Homo sapiens: one gene and its partners. The protein of the gene in region 3 interacts with the protein of the main gene of each other region in a pairwise test. Each region holds a gene or a part of one and is shown on either strand. Other genes may lie near its edges.

Region 1 (4,882 bases), on a different chromosome or scaffold from region 3:
CACTAAGGTTTGTTGGTGTGATCTTTAATACATGGCTTTATGTCCTTAAATTAAGGTAGAAAAGCTTGCTTCATGTGAAATCTGAGAAGTCAACAATGTCAACATCAGTTTACAGATGGGCCAGCGCTATCTTAAGCACCTTTCTAAAGCTGTACCTGTGTTAGAGCAGAATAAGGAACAAGCAGAACAAATGTGATTTTCCAATTTTGGTTTCCAACATGTCACTGGCTTTCATATGTGAGTTCTCCTTTTCGGTGTCTTCTGGATTTGAAAAAAGAAGTTGTATCTCACAAATCAACATCAGAAATCCCAAATTTCTACTCTAGTATGTTACAGAAGCTTAAAGTTAAATGAGGCATCTTTTAGTTTGGCTCACTAAATGTCTCTAAAATCTCAATATAGCAGTATACTTTACAATAAATCTTCAGAGTCCTAACGACAGTGTCCAATATATTCATGCATTTAAATCACATATCTGAGGACCTATCAGCAGAGTACCTATTACGGATACAGCATTGTGCTAGGTTCTCAAAGGATCCAAAATGAACTCAGGTCACATTTGCCCTCTAGGATCTGACAATTTACATTAGGAGCGATTAGGAGAGTCCTGAAAATAAACAACCACATTTCAATGTGGCAGCTGTTAAGTTTCGGAGGAGGATCTGCAGGGTGACTTGAGCACAATAAAGCCACACACAAAAATAAGTAAATATTAGGCATCACATGGTAAGTGCCAGAAAAGAGTAATGTTATTACTTAGTGCCCAAGTGATCGGAAGAATAGATAACTCCTAGGCTGGGCACGGTGGCTCACGCCTGTAATCCCAGCACTTTGGGAGGCTGAGGCAGGTGGATCACGAGGTCAGGAGATCGAGACCATCCTGGCTAACATGGTGAAACCCCGTCTCTACTAAAAAAAATACAAAAAAATTAGCCGGGTGTGGTGGCGGGCACCTGTAGTCCCAGCTACTCGGGAGGCTGAGGCAGGAGAATGGCGTGAACCCGGGAGGTGGAGCTTGCAGTGAGCCGAGATGGCGCCACTGCACTCCAGCCTGGGCAACAGAGCGAGACTCCGTCTCAAAAAAAAGAAAGAAAAAAAAAAAGAAAAGATAACTCCTAAATCTGGGAGAAGGAGAGAGAATGGGGTAATAAAAACAGAAATACAGTGTTTTCCAGTTTGAAAAAGCGTTTTACCATACAGGATTTCGCATGTGCGTCAGGAGGGCCAACGTTATTCTTCTATTACAGAAGATGAGGAAAACCCCTCAAGAGTGTTATCCAAGGTGTTAGAACTGGAGCCTGAGATTCAAAGCAAGGTTTTCTGACTCTAAATCCAACTTCTCTCTGCTACGCTATGTAAACTGAGGCGGCTTACAGGCCAAGGTAATATTTGAATTGAGCTTTAAAAACCGATAGGAGAGACAGGATTTTACTAGAAGGAGTTTGGAAATGGGGTAAGGAATGGTAGGAGGCTAGGATGGAGAAGGAGCCGCAGTGAAATGGCAGAGATGAGAATGGGAAGGTGCTTTAGGAGGGAATGATGTGATCAGTTTGACACAGCACATGTTTTCAGTGAGGGTGAAGAGCAAGAGAAGGCTGGAAGGGCGGTTTAGAAACAGACAGCGAACTGAAAGAGAGAGGAGAGCGGGGCCTCACTCCTCCAAGGCAGCATGGTACAGTGGAAAGATCGTGGCCAGGCCATGTCCAAATTCCAGATCCAGGCTCTTGTCTCCTAGTTCTATGACCTTACGTACATTAACAATTCTAAAGGCCCATTTTTCTCATATAAAAGTAGAAATGACAATACCTTCTCAGAGCTGGTCTCAGTGTTAAATGAGATAAAGTTCGGAAGTGCCCAGCACACACCGGAGGCAGTAAACAAGCCCTAGCTCCTTTCTTCCCAGCAGGAGGGGCTTTCCCAGGCCATAGCTCCTGCCCACCCCATTCCTTCTCCCTGTGGTGCCTCCTCTGCACCTGGAAGTCCTGGTTTAGGAAGCCGGTTGGCTCAAGGGAAGGCGGTTACATGAAAGCTGTGGACAGGGAGATGGGTCGGGTCAGACCGTGCATACTAGACACTCAGTGAAGGGCTTTGCCTTGATTCTAGGCCCATGACAAGGGAGCTGAAGTCTCTAAGCAGGAGAGAGGGTGAGAAGTTACGTACTGAGATCAGCCCACGTGGGCAGATTGGAGCAAGGAGCTGTGGCAGCTCTGACAAGGTGAAGAACTCAGAAGTGGATGTCAGGAGACCCCACTGGAAAGTGTGGTCAGCTACTAATGACCATGTAGCCTTGGGCAAATCACTTTCATCCCTGAGTTGAGGTTCCCATTTGTAAAACATGAGGCCGACCCAACAGCAACCTCACAGTGTAGCTGCAATAGAAACTAAATGAGAGATGGAGTGCCCGGATGGCCTAACTACAAATGCCTCCCAGACTTTAGGCAACAAGTCATACGTGAGAACGACCAAGTTCTGCATCCACAGCTACCGAAACATATGTTTATGTGCACATAAATTGAAAGAAGCCATCGGTATTTAAGTTCCCTCAAGAGGCTCTCCAAACTTTGACTTTGCTTGCAATTATTTTTGAAGCCATTTTTCGGTCCTAGAGTATAATCGGACAAATCAGGTGCTGTATGAAGCCTTGGGAACTGTCTAGACCAGGAGTTTTAAAACAGTGACTGGGGGCGCCCTAACATTCTGCAGAGGCCCACAGAGGAATGTGAAATGCACGTAAGGCTCTCTGGGTCTCCTCGACCTTTTTTCAAGCAGCTCTGCTCCCCTTTGATCTGCTGGACATACTGGGGGTTCCGCTTGGGAGCACGTTTGAACAAAGCCTGCCATGCGGTTAAGGGCTTGCTTTGGAGACAGGCAGACCCTGGCTTGCATCCTGGCTCTGGCACTGAGTAACTCTGTGAACTCCTCAAATTCTTCATCCATAAAGAGGGAAAAACAACACGTTTCTTGGGACAATTAATGGGATAACATTTACAAAGTCCTTTACATAGTGCTGGCACACAGCAAGCTCTGGGTAAATAACACTATTACTGGCCACGTACCTAACCCCAAGAGACACTCCTGGTCATCTGTCCCATTCATTCCACCACCAAAAAAGGAGAGGACTTACAAGAAGGAGCACAGGGACACAAGGACACAGTGGGGCCAGGGTGCTGAAGGTGGAGCTTTTGTGGGGAGGAACAGAGGGGAAGCACTTGCTTCCACATACTGGGATTTTGGGGTTCCACTTTTCCCCCTTGGCCCTTCATTTCCTCTGAGGTTGCAACTCCTGCCCCAGGTATGGTGACACACTAGACCCTTCTTCCTCTTGGAAGTGGGGCTCAGCTCCCAAGCCTTTTGAAACCAACCAAGAACCAGGGTGGGACCCAGGCCACCTGACTCCAGGTGAAGACCTCCTCCATTTTACAGACGGACCTGCCGAGTCCTCCAGGGAGGAGAACGATGTCGTGGCTGGGAGATAACTCTCTAACTTGTAAAAGTGCAGAGGAATTGTTCGAGTGTGTCCTCTTTGGGGAGATTCTGGGGACTCTAGTGGGTGCAGCTGTCATCAAGAAAGCCACTGAAAAGAGACTTCAGAGTTTCAGAGATGTCGACCCTGCTCAGCTGGCATGGCTGCCACACTGTGTGCTTCATCTATGGGAAGCTGAATAACTGAACTGAATATTAAAAAGAATAACTAGAACAGGGCTTGGCATGGATGTAAATGGAGCGCAATGAATTTGTTGAATGAATAAATGAATGAGACTGAACACCTGACAGATAAACATGTTTCCAATGTACATACTATGATAAATCTAACCCAAAATCCAATGTGTGAAAAGAGACTTCATTTTATATTTGCATTACTGCTATGAATAATAAATTAATTGTCTCATTAAAATCCTTCTAAAAGTGCCCTGCTAGCAGCTAAGGCCTCCTCCATGAGCCTTGGCTTTGCCTGGCTCCACAGGGCAGAGGGGAAAGATCTTTTGAGAGGAGGCCTGGGTTTACTCCGGCCTCTGCTATTCGTGAGGTCAGGTAACTGAGCTTCGGTTCCCATCATTATAGGAATCATTATATCTGCCCTGACTACCCCACAGGTATATGGTAAAAATCCCGAGAAGACAGATGTGAAAGCACTTTCTAAACCATAAGTGCAACACTCATGGTCGAGCTATAATGATGCTTATTGGCGGCTCCCTCACCCTTCCCACCTGGAATCTTCTCCAGGGAGGAGAAATACAGGAGCGAATCTTTCCTGTAGTTCAACATCTCTGCTTTGCAGAGCCCTCCCCTCTACCCCTTCCAACTCTGCATTTGCTGTTGCCCTGATCATTCACATTTGTCATTTAATTACCGTTCACAGACAGGCGGTTAAGTGGAGTGTTCAAAGCTCAGACAGACCTGCACTGGAACCCTACCTGTGGCACTTCCTACTTGAGAGACCTTGGGCAGGTCACCTCGACATCTCTAGGCTCATCTACAAAATGGGGATGACGGTAACTCATACAGACATGCTGCAAAGAGCAAATCAGGTCTTTCATGTAAAGTGCTCAGTGTGCTGCCTTGCACACAGTTAAGTGCTCAAACAACTGTAGCTCTTACGATTGCTGAATACTGCTCCGTTTCCTGAATTTGTCCTGTCTCCTCCCCAGCTGGATCTGAATCCCTGAGAACAAGGTCCCTGTCCTATCCATTTCTGTGACTATCTCTGACCCCACTCCCATTCCAGAAAAGTGCTGAGTTCAGAGTATCTTCTATAAAGACACTGGCTGAACTGATTTAAGAGAACTGTTTCCTTTCAAACAGTGCTTAAATCTTCACTGTAGTCCCATCACAGCCAGCTTGAGAAAGTCAATGTCCACAGGGTAAAGTAACGTCTTCTGAC
Region 2 (4,882 bases), on a different chromosome or scaffold from region 3:
TGCATCCTTGTTTTTCCTGTTATTGAGCTTTGGGCCCATTTCAGTGTCATGTTTGCTTGCTTATGGAAACGTAATCAAGCACCATCCTCTCTCACTTGTTCATTTCTATTACTCATTCAAGCTATCCATCACATACAGTAGTGTGAGTAATTGATCTATTTTGAGAAGGCCTGAAATCTGATGGATCTCAAATATATACTTTATTCATGCTAGTGTTTTGCTACGTCCTAATGCCTCCAGGATGTTTCCTGGATTTGTGTTTAGGTTTCTTCATGTACACCTTTTTGACTCTTCAGTCTTCTAGGTGGTGCAATACAGCAGTCTGCTATTTGTACAGTATTTTCCCCATGGTCATCATTATCAGTTCTAGGCTTGGTAAAATCCTTCAGGGAATGACCAACCACCTCTTCCTGACTGTAGTACAATGGAAATGCAAGCATATGCTTTCTAGACATTCAACTTAGCTTAAATATGGTATAAGAATATCACTTTCCTTTAAGAAAGTCAGTTTATTGTGTAAGGTAGTGATAGAGAAAAGAAGTCCAAGCAGATTCTGCTTGGTAAGTCTCATCAATATGGAGGTGACTTAGGATAGTAATAGGTATAATTACAGATGATTTTTGAAATAATTCAGGACTTGTCTTCTATAGTTCCTTGATCCCCAGTATTACTCCCACGTGTACAAAAGTTTGATTCTGGAGCCTCCATTCCATTTAAAAAGAATCACTTCCTTAGTAAGTTAAAGCAGCCAGTAAGGTGAAGAGAACTGCAAGATGATTAGTCTTGGTTTCCTTATACTCTTGGGAAGCCTTTTTTTTTCCTACTACACTGCAGACAGCTTAATTCCTACCTTCTGTGTGTTTGCTGTATCTCTGCCTTTATTGCATTCTCCTTGCTTGCCTGTATTCACTGAATCAAGTAATGTCCTTTCTTATCTGTTTATTTCTGCTTATCACAAATTCACACTGAAAAGATAATTTTGATTGGATATATATATATATATATATATATATATATATATGAGCAACTTCTCATGGGAGACTTTTGAGGCTTTCTCTTTTCCTTCAGCATTGCTTCAGAAAATAGCCTTTGCAGTTAATATTAGGTTCCATTTGTATTAGAATTCTGATGCCCAAGGCTTGGATGTCTCTGCTAGCAAATACCTGAATGAGCTAGCTGCTCCTGTGAAACTAGGCATTTGATGGAATACAAAAAGAATCAACTATCTGATATTTGTTCCCAAACTTCTTTATAGTCTGGAGGGGATGATGAGATTTGCCTATAAAGAAGTAAGTGAGGTTAATTACAGAATAAAGGTGTAGCATGAAGATTACTGTAAAGTAATTGAAGGTAGTGGTGGTGATAGGGCCTGAGCTTTGTTGGTTTCTTGCAAAGTACTTATGCCTGTGTGTTCTCATTTACTGTTTTTATGCCTTCTCTCCTAGGATTTTCTCATGTGCCCTGAAATCCATGTAACTACAAGGGCTCCTCTTTATCACCATAAGTGCCACCCTGACTTAAAACCACTCAGAGCTAAAAAATCAAGGCAAAATGGATGCTGCGGTGACAGATGATTTTCAACAAATTCTGCCTATTGAACAGCTGCGCTCTACTCATGCTAGCAATGACTACGTGGAACGGCCTCCAGCCCCCTGTAAACAGGCCCTCTCCAGCCCTTCCCTTATTGTGCAAACCCACAAGTCTGATTGGTCTCTGGCTACCATGCCTACTTCTCTCCCCCGCAGTCTCAGCCAGTGCCATCAACTGCAGCCCTTGCCTCAGCATCTGAGCCAATCTAGCATTGCCAGCTCAATGTCCCATAGCACCACTGCCTCTGATCAAAGGCTCTTGGCCAGCATTACACCCTCACCTTCAGGCCAATCCATCATCCGAACCCAACCTGGAGCAGGGGTCCACCCAAAGGCTGATGGTGCTCTGAAGGGAGAAGCTGAGCAATCTGCAGGGCACCCTAGTGAGCACCTCTTCATCTGTGAGGAATGTGGGCGCTGCAAGTGCGTCCCCTGCACAGCAGCTCGCCCTCTCCCCTCCTGCTGGCTGTGCAACCAGCGCTGCCTTTGCTCTGCTGAGAGCCTCCTCGATTATGGCACTTGTCTCTGCTGTGTCAAGGGCCTCTTCTACCACTGCTCCACTGATGATGAAGACAACTGTGCTGATGAGCCCTGCTCTTGTGGGCCTAGTTCTTGCTTTGTCCGCTGGGCAGCCATGAGCCTCATCTCCCTCTTCCTACCCTGCCTGTGCTGCTACCTGCCTACCCGTGGATGCCTCCATCTGTGCCAACAGGGCTATGATAGCCTCCGGCGACCAGGCTGCCGCTGCAAGAGGCACACCAACACTGTGTGCAGAAAGATCTCTTCTGGTAGTGCACCCTTCCCCAAGGCCCAGGAAAAGTCTGTATGACCTTCCAACAAGGTGGATCCAGAGCTTTTCTCCTTCGAGTCCCCAACAGCAAAGCATAGGCCTCATCTTTGGAGAGGGGGAGGAGTGATAAACTAGCCAAAGTTAGGGCCTCTCTTTTGTTCCTGCAGTGTCAGGGGAATGACCAAGTACATCCTGGTGCAGGATGCCTTGTTCTTTCTCACAGTATCTATCCCACTCCTCTTCAGTCTTTACACCCTGCCAGCTCAGCCTTTATGGTTGTCATGGCAAATTCAGGTGATATATGGGTATGAGGTTTGAACACTGAGGACTGACAGGGCCAGCAACGTGGAGGTTTAGGGGCTCCCCAATGTAATACCTCTCGATGCAGGCTCTGATCGTCACTCTGTTTTCTGCTGTGCCTTTGGAAGCTTTCTTCTAAGATGGTTTTCACAGGTACATGTGGAACAGCGTTCAACCTTCCAGGGAATACGACCCCTTCTCCCTGTTACTGCCCTTCTCTTCTTTATTCCTCTCTCCTCTTTCATTATTCTGTTCTGTATTCCTTTCCCCTTCATTCTCACCCTGTCTGCTTTTACTTTTTCTCTTTCTTCCTCCCTTTCTCCTTCTCCCCTCCTTCTTTTTCAGACTGATCCTTTCTCTGCCTGTATTTCTATCTCATTTGATCTATATTTGTCTCTCTCTACCTGTCCCTTTTTCTCTAACATGTCCAAAAGTGCTGTTTTTCCATAGATGTTTCCTTAGATGCCAAACTTTGCTATGCTATACTATTTACTAATTTTTATTAAGGGAAATGGATTACTGTAATGAACTGATCACTAGCAATAGTGTGTATCCCGATGTGTGTGTGTGCTCACAACCACTCTCACCTGTTCGTGAGCGCATGAGGCGAAGTTATCTTATATTTCCAGGTTTAACTAGTTGGAGTTTTTCTCCCTTTCTCAATAATCAACTTATAGTGCTGACAGATTCCACTAGCATGCTGAGTAGGATAGTAAATCAGGATGCTCATAACTTTGTATGTCTGACCCAAGTGCCAAAGGCAGACGTGCTTTATAGCTAAATGAACAAAGCAAAGGATACAGAGGTATGTTCTCTCTTAGAAGCTAACTTCCCTGAGACTGCATGGCTCAGGCGTTAATAATGGACATAAAAAGTCATAAAACGTTAGAGCTGGAAGGAATCTTAACTATTAATCTAGTTCAATGCCCTTATTTTACAGATGGGAAAACTGAGGCCTGGAGGTAGGAAGGGACTTGCCCCCAAGGCCGCACACTGAGTTAACAGCAGAATTGAGACTGGAATATAGGCCTTCTGACTCCTAGTTCAGTATTCTTACCCCTGTACCACATTGAGTCATGGGACTTTTTCCTAGGGCTCTATTAACAGTGACAGAAAGCCATTCCCATTCAATTACTTTTCAGGAACCATGCCTAGTTAGTGTGGTGGTCTTTCTCCAGTGCATGGTGGGTAGCTAATTAACTATCAGGTGTTGAGGCTGCCCCCAGTGGACATCACCTTTGGCTCTGTCACCTTGTAGAAGCTCAAGTGTGGAAAAGAAAAGCTTAAAGAAGCCCTAACCAAGCTGTATCTTCGCCATTGCATCTACTCTTTGCTGCACACACTGTGCTTGCTCCTGGCTTTGTCTGCAATGGCAGCTGCCTGAGAACTTAAATTTCAGCAACAGTGAAAAACTGAGATGAAAGATGTATAATGTAGAGAACTGACTTCTCTCTTAAAAAGTACAGAGAGCCTGTGCTGTGAACCCCCTTCAATGGGAAAAAGCTGCAGTGGTGATGGCAGGCTCCTAAAGACTGCTGCTAAAAGACACAAGAATTATACAGTTTCCCTCTATAAGTGAATCCAAAATTCACTGACGAATTCAGAGATTGAGGGCACTTGCTTGAAATCAAGGTGCTCCAACTTAGTTTAAGACCTCCAGACTCTAACTTTATAGATCATCTCTTCTAGAGTGTGCATGGATGTGTGTTGCAGGGTGGAGAAGTGGGGAGAAGTGTATAGTAGTACACGGGGGGAAGAGGGGACCTCCATGTCCCTTTGTTGGATACATATTACAGAAATATGTGCCACTCACTTTTTGTTGGTTCTGAATCTTCCTGAAGTGTACTGACATTTGGGCTGCACAGAGCCCCACACCTTCACTTACACCTCCTCTTCTAGAATTGCTTTGCTCTATTTTTGTATATATAAATATGTTATGATGATTATTAATAATGTTAATGATATTGCTGCAAATGGTGCCATATATAAGGTTAGGCTTCTTGGAACATTTATAAACCCAAACCAATACCTGTAACCTCTTATGTTGCTTTCAGATCCTTCAATTTTAAGTAACTTTTTAATCTTACAAGTCTGCTTGATTGTACTTTACACTTATCTACCCTGAAAAGCTCTGCCCAGTTCTCTGGGTCAAGCTGGATGGTGATGAGTAGCAACACACACTTCTCTGCTTCTGCCTGAAATG
Region 3 (4,882 bases):
ACTGTGAACTGCAAAGGAAAAGAAAAACGAGCATGCATTGAGCGCCTGCTGTGTACTGGGTCATGCAAGGAGCACATGGAGCCTCTCAACAGTCCCGTGGGTGGGGATTGTCATTTCATCTCTCAGATGAGGAAAATCTCATAACCGCCAGGGCCCCAGCATGAGTCTTGGGGGAGCTGAGGTTCATACCATGTCCACCCATCCTTGCGCCTGCGGTTGCTCCACAGTTCTGGGCTTCCTGCCTTCTGCGTCCCTCCTAAATGGAGGAAGTAGGTCAAGCGGCAAAGTCAGGACAGGAGCCATGTCCATGAGAGCCGCTGGGCCCGTCTGAACACAGCTTTGCCGGAGGAAATGGCTTTAAATCCTCCAGCAAAGCTTCCCAAGCCCCTTGATTTGCTTACTTGTCCTTAAAGAACAAGATTGAGAGCCTGGGCAGAGGAGGGCCGGGAGAGAGAATGGCGTTGGGGAAATGGGGAGAGAACACCCGCAGCTTCAGGGCGCTGGAGGAGTAGCAGGGTCCTCTCTGTCCAAAAAAGGACCAGTTTCTCTCTTGATCTTGTTTTTTTTTTGAGATAGAGTCTCAGTCTATCACCCAGGCTGTAGTGCAGTGGCGTGATCAGCTCACTGCAACCTCTGCCTCCCGGGTTCAAGCGATTCTCCTGCCTAGGTCTCTTGAGTAGCTGGGACTACAGGCGTGCACCACCACACCCAGCTAATTTTTATATTTTTAGTAGAGACGGGGTTTCACCATGTTGGCCAGGCTGGTCTCGAACTCCTGACCTCAAGTGATCCACCCACCTCAGCCTCGCTGGGATTACAGGTGTGAGCCACTGTGCCTGGCCCGCCCTCTCCATCTTCTGGGGAGGGGCTCACCTGGGCTCTCTGTCTTGGTTCTTTAGTGCCACGATGGGTTTTGTGGTGGGACAGTGCTGGGGGGACCCACAGTGAGCAAGCCCTACAGGGGCTGGGAGTGCAGGGGGGGGTCACAGAGTCCCTTGGTGAGGAGGTGGGAGAGCCGGGACTGGAAAGCAGACCCCGTGGCCTCCTTTGGGTCACTGGACACAGATTGTAACCACTCTATTTCTCTTTTTCCTCCCGCCCAAGATCTTTGAGATGATGGACGCCAAGGCGAGGCAGGACTGTGTCAAGGAGATCGGCCTCTTGAAGGTGAGCACCCTGGGCCGAGCGGGAGCTTTGCCTCCTCGGGGAGGTTCTGGGGCCGCGGCTGGGCCACATCATGTCCATCACAGCCCTTGGGTGCCAGGAATCCGCAGCCCCTGCTAAGTTAACAGACGATAGCTTTCTAGGGGCAGCGGCTAGTGAGTTTTCTCCTGGCCAGGCAGGAGCGGCCCGCCTCATCGCTCTGCCCAGCCCTTGGGGTCGCTGCCTACAGCCTTTCCTCCTTGCTGCACGCCCCTCCTGCTTGTACATGGCAGTACCCGGCATAGAAGTCCTTCCCCACAGGGCAGCCCTGACCCTGCCTCGCAGTGGCCTATGGACCAGGCTTGGCTAGGGGAGGAGTTCATTGTGGGGACCACATCCAGACTGCAGCCTGTCTGGCTCTGCCTCTGTCTCTATGTCTGTCTCCCTGTTTTTCTCTTTCTCATCCTCTTTCCATCTCTCCTCTCAGCCTTTTTCTTTGGTTTTGTTGGTAGTGGTGGTGGTGGTGGTGGTGGTGGGTTTTTTTTTTATTTTAGAGGCAAACTCTGTTGCCTGGACTGTAGTGCAGTGGCATGATCATAGCTCACTGCAGCCTCAAACTCCTGGGCTCAAGCAATCCTCCCGCCTCAGTCTCCCGAGTAGCTGGGACCACAGGCGCATGCCACCACACCTGATTTTTATTTTTTATTTCTTTTGTTTTTTTTTGAGACAGAGTTTTGCTCTTGTTGCCCAGGCTGGAGTGCAGTGGCACAATCTCTGCTCACTGCAATCCCCACCTTCTCGGTTCAAGCAGTTCTCCTGTCTCAGTCTCCTGGGATTACAGGCACCCACCACCACACCCAGCTAATTTTCATATTTTTAGTAGAGACAGCGTTTCACCATGTTGACCAGCCTGGTCTCAACCTCCTGACCTCAGGTGATCCATCCACCTCAGCCTCCCAAAGTGCTGGGATTACAGGCGGGAGCCACCGCACCCGGCCCCCCATGAAACATACTGGATTTGCTCGGCAGTTTCCAGCAAAGTGGGACTGCTGGTGGCAGGGCTGCCCGCCGAAGCCACAGCTGCAGAATTTCAGATTAGCAGTTTTTTCTGCCACACGCTGCCCTGTGTTCTCAGGCCTTGGCCCTGCTCTTGGGGACTTCCAGGCTGGTGGGGAAGCAGGTAGGAAGCAGATGGTGACCTTCCAGGGTGATGCAGATTGACTGGTGGGCCAGGAGCCCCAGGGAAACCCGCTTCCTGGGCAGGCCTCACAGAGGGCAGGGCACCATCCCAGAATCTGGAAGGCCGAAGTGAGCCTTCTTCCAGGCACCGCAGCACCGTGGATTATGGGAGGTTGGGGAGACAGAAGGCTGGACATGGCAGCAGAGCCAGATACACACTCAGAACAAAAGGGGAGCCCCTGAAGTGGCTGCAAGTCGGGGGGCCATGGCTGGGTGTGAGTTGTGAGTGCCTGCTCTGGTGGCCCCCGGCCACAGTGGGTGAGGGAGTCAAGGCTGGAGGCAGGAGGTGTCCTTACCACTAACTATTATAGGTCAAAAAATATCCCTCGAAAACATTGTTTAAATGTTTAAGTAATGGTCAGCTTGCTGCCACTTACCCAGCCCTGAGGAATGTTTGTCCTGATCACCCATTGCCCCCTCCCCACCTCATGTGCCCTTCTCCCCGAGTGAAGGAACCCACAGGTGAGCATGCTGAGCACAGCCTGGTCTGGTCCCTGGTCACACAGATGTGCCACCGCAGCCCCTGCCTTGCAGGAGCCTGAGCCTGGCGTAAACCCACATGGCTGCAGAGGGGATTTGGTCCCTTCTCCAGGGCTGCCATGCAGCCAAGGGCACCAAGCCGGGGTTTCAGAGGACACACCCCTCGCTCACTAGCTGTGTGGCTGCAGGCCAGCCATGGGCCTCTCAGGACCTCAGTTTCCTCATCTGTAAAGGGGGCATGATGACAACAGGGACGCTGGAGGAGTCAGTGAGGAAGCATGTCTGACGAGCTCAGGGCAGCGCTGGTGTGTGGTACGCTCGCCGCCCAAGGCAGCCCAGTTGTCATGGTTGCCACCTCTGCCCGCCAATGCCAGCCGCCTTCCCGAACACGGGTCCCACTCCACAGGTAGCCCATGGGAAGTCAACAGGATGTGCCAGGGCACGAGGTGCTTCCTACAAAACAAAAGGAAACGTGGTTTTCGGAGGGGTGACTGTTGACATATCACATCATTCATGCAAAGAACCCAAACCCAAAACCTCTCAAGTGCGGGGGCTGGTGGGGTCGGCAGCTGCCAAGCGTGGGACAAGAAGGTGGGTCCTGTTGGAACGCAGGCGTGTGTTCATTCATTCTGTGCAATTTCTGATCACCACTGAATGCTGGACACCAGGGTGCAGCCCAGTGGAGAAGACAGATCATAGACACTCTGTGTTACATCCGGGAGGGCCTGGAGCTTGGGAGCAGAGCCCCTGATGGCAGAGATTCAAAGGACAGGGACCCTTACTCTCAGCTCTCCCTCCCTTCCCTCTGGCCACCACCACAGCCAGACAAAGCCCAACCACATTGCGTCTTTGCAGCACCTTCCCTGTCCCTGACCCAAGTGTGTCCCCTTCCAGACCCACCTGGGCCCACCAAGAGGCCACAGGCTGTGAAGTGGACTCCATGTGGACCAGGTTCTAGACTCAGCTCGGCCCCTGCTTGCTGTGGACCCGTGGCTGATCCCTTCCCCTCTCTGGACCTTGGCGATTTAGCCCAATGGACGTCTGGAGCCCCTTTCTGCCTGTGCCTGTGTAGACTGCCTGGGCATTTAAGGGAGCCCTTCCTTAACCCCCTGCCCTCAGACGTGCAGGGAAATGGGGGAGGAGTCTCCCTCCTCCCCTCCCCAGGAACCAGCGCCTCCTTGATGGGGCTTTACTTCCTACCCAACCCCTCTCATTTCTCCCTTGTTGGAGAAACTGTGTCATGCCTGGACTGCTGATGACCTGGGCAGTTTTTGGGGAGTCCTCCCTGAGAGGTTGTGAGATTTCCTGGTGACATAATGAGGTGAAGTTCAAGAGGAGGGTGAAGGAGCAGGGTGTTCCCATTTATCCTCATAGCAGCTTGCCCACGCCGTAGGTCATGTCTCAGAGATTTGAAGGCACTTTCAACTTGCCATTCACTTGCTTTGACACTTTTTTTGGTAACTGAAAAACATGTCTATGGAGCATGATGTGTGCTGAGGGCAGCGATGTGATGGCCAGTGTTCGCGCAGGACGTCCTTTTCAACACAAAATCTGGGCAAGAGGATTTTCTTTTCTTTCTTTCCTTTTTTGATAACAGGGTCTCGCTCTGTCACCCAGGCTGGAGTGCCGTGGTGCGATCTCGGCTCACTACAACCTCCGAGTAGCTGGAATAACAGGTGTGCACCACCACACCCGGCTAATTTTTGTGTTTTTGTAGAGACGGGGTTTCACCATGTTGGCCAGGCTGGTCTTGAACGCCTGACCTCAGGTGATCCACCCGCCTCGGCCTCCCAAAGTGCTGGCATTACAGACATGAGCCACCACGTCTGGCCCACCTTCTTTTTTAAATTTCCATTTTTATTTTAGATTCAGAGGGTACACATGCAGGTTTGTTACAAGAGTATATTGTGTGATGCTGAGATTTGGGCTTCTGATCCCGTCACGCAGATAGTGAACATCATACCCAATGGGAAGTTTTTCAGCCCTTGCCCCACTCCCGCCCCCTCTTGTAGAGCCCAGT
Region 4 (4,882 bases), on a different chromosome or scaffold from region 3:
TTGTGAGAATTAGAGAGTGCTTAGCAAAGAGAATTAGAGCACTTAGCAAAGAATCTGGCACAAGAAAGAAGCACTCAGTAAAGGTTAGCTATTGATATTATCATTATGCAAATCTAAAGGGGCTTAGATCTTTTCTTCTTTATCTTCTCATTCTCCCTTTCTTTCCTTTTCTCTTTTCTGTTTTTCATAAATAATAAAAAAAAAGCCTCACAGTTCATTCAGCAAGGTGGAAGTTTATTTAGCTCTCCACCAAAAGTCTGGATGTGAAGTAATCCAGGATGGGTGTGGAAGCTCTGAAACCCAGGCCCCTTCCCTATTAGGTGTGGCCCTCGTCCTCAGTATTCAAGATGGCAGCTAGAGCTCTAGGGATCATGTCTGCATTCCACATAGCAAGATGGAGGAGAGGAAAAGAAAACTCCGGACGGATGCTTCCTAAAGGTTGCTTACTCCCACACTGGCCTGGACTTAATCACCAGAAAGGCTAAAAATGTGACCAATATTCCAGGTAGTCATGTACCCAGAAAAATGTGATATTACAATGGAAAATTGAGAGGAAGAAGTATGGAGGAACAATTATTGTTCCCTGATGTACCCAACCCCGGGGGTCTAACAGATTTGGGTCATTCCCCAGAAACCCATTCTCATCCAGCTTTTACGTGCTTATTTCTCAGGTAGGGAACACCTTCCCCAAAAAAGTTAGTTGCATAGTTTGCTTATCCTACTCAGCTTGGCTTACTTTCTAAATTCCTCTCATACCTTTTACCTCTCATCCACCAACTTCATTCATTTTCTAACTGTCCAATTTTAATAAGCAATACAATTATTTTATTATAGAAAAGTTAGAGAACACAGCTAAGCACTTAGAAAAAAAGCGTTTTTTCAATATTCAAAAATCTCACCACTTAGAGATAACCACTTCTAAAATATTGGCATATAGTCATCTAACATTTTCCCTAGATAAAAAACATACATATGTATTTATAATGAAAATCTAGTCTACATAATTATTCTTAACCTCTTCTGTTACACTTAATGGTATATTATCAGTAACGCTCAATATTATTAATTATAGAAAAACATCAATTTTAATGACTGCAAAGTTTTTCATTGTATGGGTATGGGTGTATAATAATTTATTCAACCAATTCCCTGTTTATTCCACAGCATTATGTTAAACCCCCTAGCACATATATCTTTGCTCATTTGTCCACCAGTTTCCTGGGGATGAGCTGTGTTCCTGTGGTTTTTTCACCCCTGGGGTCTCCTTACTTATCTGGGGACCAGCAGAAAAGGACACCTCCACCATTCCATCAGCAAAGTAATGTTGGGTCTTATCTCTACCACTAAGCTGCTCGGAATTCTTCTTTCAAATGATCATTGCGGATTCAGGAGATCCATGAAGACCTAAATTAATGCCTCTCTATACCCCACTGCATGAATAGCAAGATTATGAACAGCAAGACTGCTACAATGCGAGGTGATTACATAATCCCACTGCTTGGAAAAGCACAAAATAAAATACGACCTTAGGTGACTGAAGCACTTCCTCTTAGTCTGTTAGAACTTGCAGTTTACCCAGCAGACTTCGAGCAAGACTGGAGTGAGGCCATTTCTATGTGAAAAAAACAATTTCAATTAGTAAAAATGCATTTGACTGAAATAATTATTTAGACAACTGATTTGACAAACGATTATGCTTGAGCTGATTTTTTTTAAAAAACTGACGATTGATCTCTGACTAATTGTTTCTTTGTCTCAGCTGAGCTTCCTAATGATCCAAATGCTCATTTTATAAATGAATACAGTTTAAGAAAGATTAAGTAACTTAGCCATGATTACACAAAAGGAAAGAAGTAGAGCCAGAATTCAAAATCAGTATTCAGACCCAGAAAGAGTCACTGACTCCCATCTCATAGACGTAGAGTCAAGTTCACAGCCCTGTTCCTTGGGTAGTGATTAAGAAAAGGGGTTCCAGCATCAGGTAATCTGAGTTCATGTCCCATATCTGCCATTTCCCAGTTGTGTCATCTTATGCAAGTTAATAAACCACTCTGTGTCTCTGTCACCCTATCTTATAAATGGGGATGATGCGTGTCTATCTCCAAGGGCTGCCTAGATTAAATGAGATGATCCACATACACACTTAGCACATAGGAAGTGCTCGGTAATTAGTTATTAATGTTATGTAGGTGTCGTCTGAAAACCTTGGCCAAAAGGGTCATAGACATGGCGGTCATCAGGGTTCAGGTGTACATGTGAAGGTTTGTTACACAGGTAAACTCGTATCACGGGCATTTGTTGTGCAGGTTATTTCATCACCCAGCAATGAATGAGACTTCCTGTTGCTCCTCATTCTCCCCAGCATTTACCATTGTCAATGTCTCAGATTTTCACCCTGCTAGTAGATGGGAAAACTGACAACCATGCCTGCAAGTCTGATACATGCATCTGTAAATGTACATGGAACCAAAGAAGAGGAATCCAAAAAGCAGCTAGTGAAACCAGAGCAGCTCCCCGTATATACTGCACCACCGCTCCAGTCTAAATATGTTGAAGAGCAGCCTGGTCATTTATAAATGGGCTTTGCTTCCATCTACACTGCAACTGGTCATTATACTGGCTGGTGCAAGGATGTTTATGTCTTTGTGAAAAATGGGATAATGGATACAGTACAATTTGGGAAAGATGCTTATGTCTATCTGAAGAATCCTCCTCGAGATTTTCTTCCGAAAATGGGAGTTATTACGGTTTCAGGATTGGTGGGCTTGGTTTCAGCGAGAAAAGGTTTTAAGTTTAAGAAAATTACTTATCCTCTGGGACTGGCCACTTTATGAGCAACTGTTTGCTACCCAGTTCAGTCAGTAATAATTGCTAAGGTAACAGGGAAAAAGGTATATGCTACAAGCCAGCAAATTTTTGAAGCAGTTAAATCATTGTGGACAAAAAGCAGCAAAAAAAGAGTCACTCCCTAAACCTAAAGAAAAAAAATTAAGCTAGGATCCCCCGCCGAAATAGAAGTACCTGCAAAAACAACTCACATCTTGAAATGCTCAGTGCCCTTGCCAACAGAACTCAGCTCTGAAGCAAACACCAAATCAGAATCCACCTCAGGTGCTACACAGTTTATGCCTGACCCCAAGTTCATGGATCACAGGTGGTCCCACCCAGAACATATAGACAAGTATAGCACTGGAACCTGAAGCAGACTGCATAGAGAGACTACATAGAAAACTACAAGATGTATGAAGTTGCAAATAATGATGAAAAAAATCATGTAATGGGTAACTGATACATAGAGTATTATTTAAACCAAGTTTTTCCCTTACCTCTCCAAATGTGCAATTTGATAAATTGCATAAGTGGTTAACACACAAACTGTGAATGCAATGCAAACAATATTAAATGATTGATGAGGAGACTTAGGTAGAAGTATTAGCTTGAATTTAATGAGCTTTAGGGGCCCATAGTTAAAAAAAAAAAAAAAAAGACATGAACTCCAGTGAGACTAAAATCTGAAAATGCATATATGTATGTATAAAGACATACATATTTATATGTATAATCATATATTTCTGCTCTAGCTTTCCCTAATTAATGTCAGTTAAATTAGAATGGTGTGTAGAAAGATGTGTTTCCCTCTTTTTTTCCATTTCCTAGAGCTGGAATAAAATATCCATGTTTTATGGGAAAAAAAAGTATTATGCAGGTATGCCCCAGAGATAGTGTAGGTTCAGTTTTGGACCACCACAATAAAGCTAATACCATAATAAAGCAAGTCAAACACTTTTTTTTCATTTCCCAGTGCATATAAAAGTTGTATTTGGCTGGGCATGGTGGCTCACGCCTGTAATGCCCTTTGGGAGGCCAAGGTGGGTGGATCATGAGGTCAGGAGATCGAGACCATCCTGGCCAACATAGTGAAACCCCGTCTCCACCAAAAATACAAAAATTAGCCAGGTGTGGTGGTGTGCGCCTGTAATCCCAGCTAGTCGGGAGGCTGAGGCAGGAGAATCACTTGAACCCGGGAGGTGGAGGTTGCAGTGAGCTGAGATCACACCACTGGACTCCAGCCTGGCAACAGAGCAAGACTCCATCTCAGAAAGAAAAGAAAACAAAAAAGTTGTGTTTACACTATGCTGTAGTCTATTAAGTGTGCAATAGCATTATGCCTAAAAAACAATATATCTAACTTAATTTAAAATACTTTATTACTAAAAAAAAAACCTTAATGATGATCTGAGCCTTCAGCAAGTTGTAATCTTCTTGCTGGTGGTGGGTCTTGCCTCAATATTGATGGCTTGTTGCTTCACCTTGCATTTTTATGTTATAGAGACAGCTTCTCTTCTTAAACCTCAGACTATCTCTGCCAGCTTCAAACTTTTTTTCTGCAGCTTCCTCATCTCTCTCAGCCTTCATAGAATTAAAGAAAGTTAGGATCTTGATCTTGATTAGGCTTTGGCTTGAGGGTCTGTTGTGTCTGGTTTGATCTTCTACACAAACCAGTCAAACTTTCTCCATATCGGCAATAAGGCTGATTCACTTACTTATCATTTATGTATTCACTGCAGTAGCACTTCTGATTTCCTTCATGAACTTTTCTTTTGCATTCACAGCTTGACTGTTTGTCACAAGAGGCCTAGCTTTTGGCCTATCTCAGCTTTAGTCATGCCTTCCTCATTAAGATTAATCATTTCTAGCTTTTGATTTAAAGTGAGAGATGTGAAACTCTTCCTTTCACTTGAAAATTTGTAGGCAATTGTAGGGTCATTAATTGGCCTCATTTTAATATTTTTGTGTCTCAGAGAATAGGGAGGCCCAAGGAGAGGGAGAGAGATGGGAAAATGACCAGTTTGTGGAGCAGTCAGAACACAAACATTTATCG

Evidence for each region. The genes of interacting proteins can lie anywhere in the genome.
Region 1: the proteins of NEK6 (region 3) and BEND7 interact in binary tests that used the Homo sapiens proteins (3 or more experiments, as listed by UniProt).
Region 2: the proteins of NEK6 (region 3) and SPRY3 interact in binary tests that used the Homo sapiens proteins (3 or more experiments, as listed by UniProt).
Region 4: the proteins of NEK6 (region 3) and SH3RF2 interact in binary tests that used the Homo sapiens proteins (3 or more experiments, as listed by UniProt).

The regions. Positions count from the first base shown.
Region 1 is NC_000010.11:13,518,398-13,523,279, forward strand, and holds part of BEND7 (BEN domain-containing protein 7), read right to left. Parts: intron 262-4,882; exon of another isoform or gene 156-261; intron 1-155.
Region 2 is NC_000023.11:155,772,321-155,777,202, forward strand, and holds part of SPRY3 (protein sprouty homolog 3), read left to right. Parts: intron 1-1,445; 5' UTR 1,446-1,551; coding exon 1,552-2,418; 3' UTR 2,419-4,882. UniProt on the Homo sapiens protein: Inhibits neurite branching, arbor length and neurite complexity. Inhibits EGF-mediated p42/44 ERK signaling. Negatively regulates the MAPK cascade, resulting in a reduction of extracellular matrix protein accumulation.
Region 3 is NC_000009.12:124,312,819-124,317,700, forward strand, and holds part of NEK6 (serine/threonine-protein kinase Nek6), read left to right. Parts: intron 1-1,104; coding exon 1,105-1,167; intron 1,168-4,882. UniProt on the Homo sapiens protein: Protein kinase which plays an important role in mitotic cell cycle progression. Required for chromosome segregation at metaphase-anaphase transition, robust mitotic spindle formation and cytokinesis.
Region 4 is NC_000005.10:145,994,813-145,999,694, forward strand, and holds part of SH3RF2 (E3 ubiquitin-protein ligase SH3RF2), read left to right. Parts: intron 1-1,525; exon of another isoform or gene 1,526-1,612; intron 1,613-2,404; exon of another isoform or gene 2,405-3,688; intron 3,689-4,882. UniProt on the Homo sapiens protein: Has E3 ubiquitin-protein ligase activity. Acts as an anti-apoptotic regulator of the JNK pathway by ubiquitinating and promoting the degradation of SH3RF1, a scaffold protein that is required for pro-apoptotic JNK activation.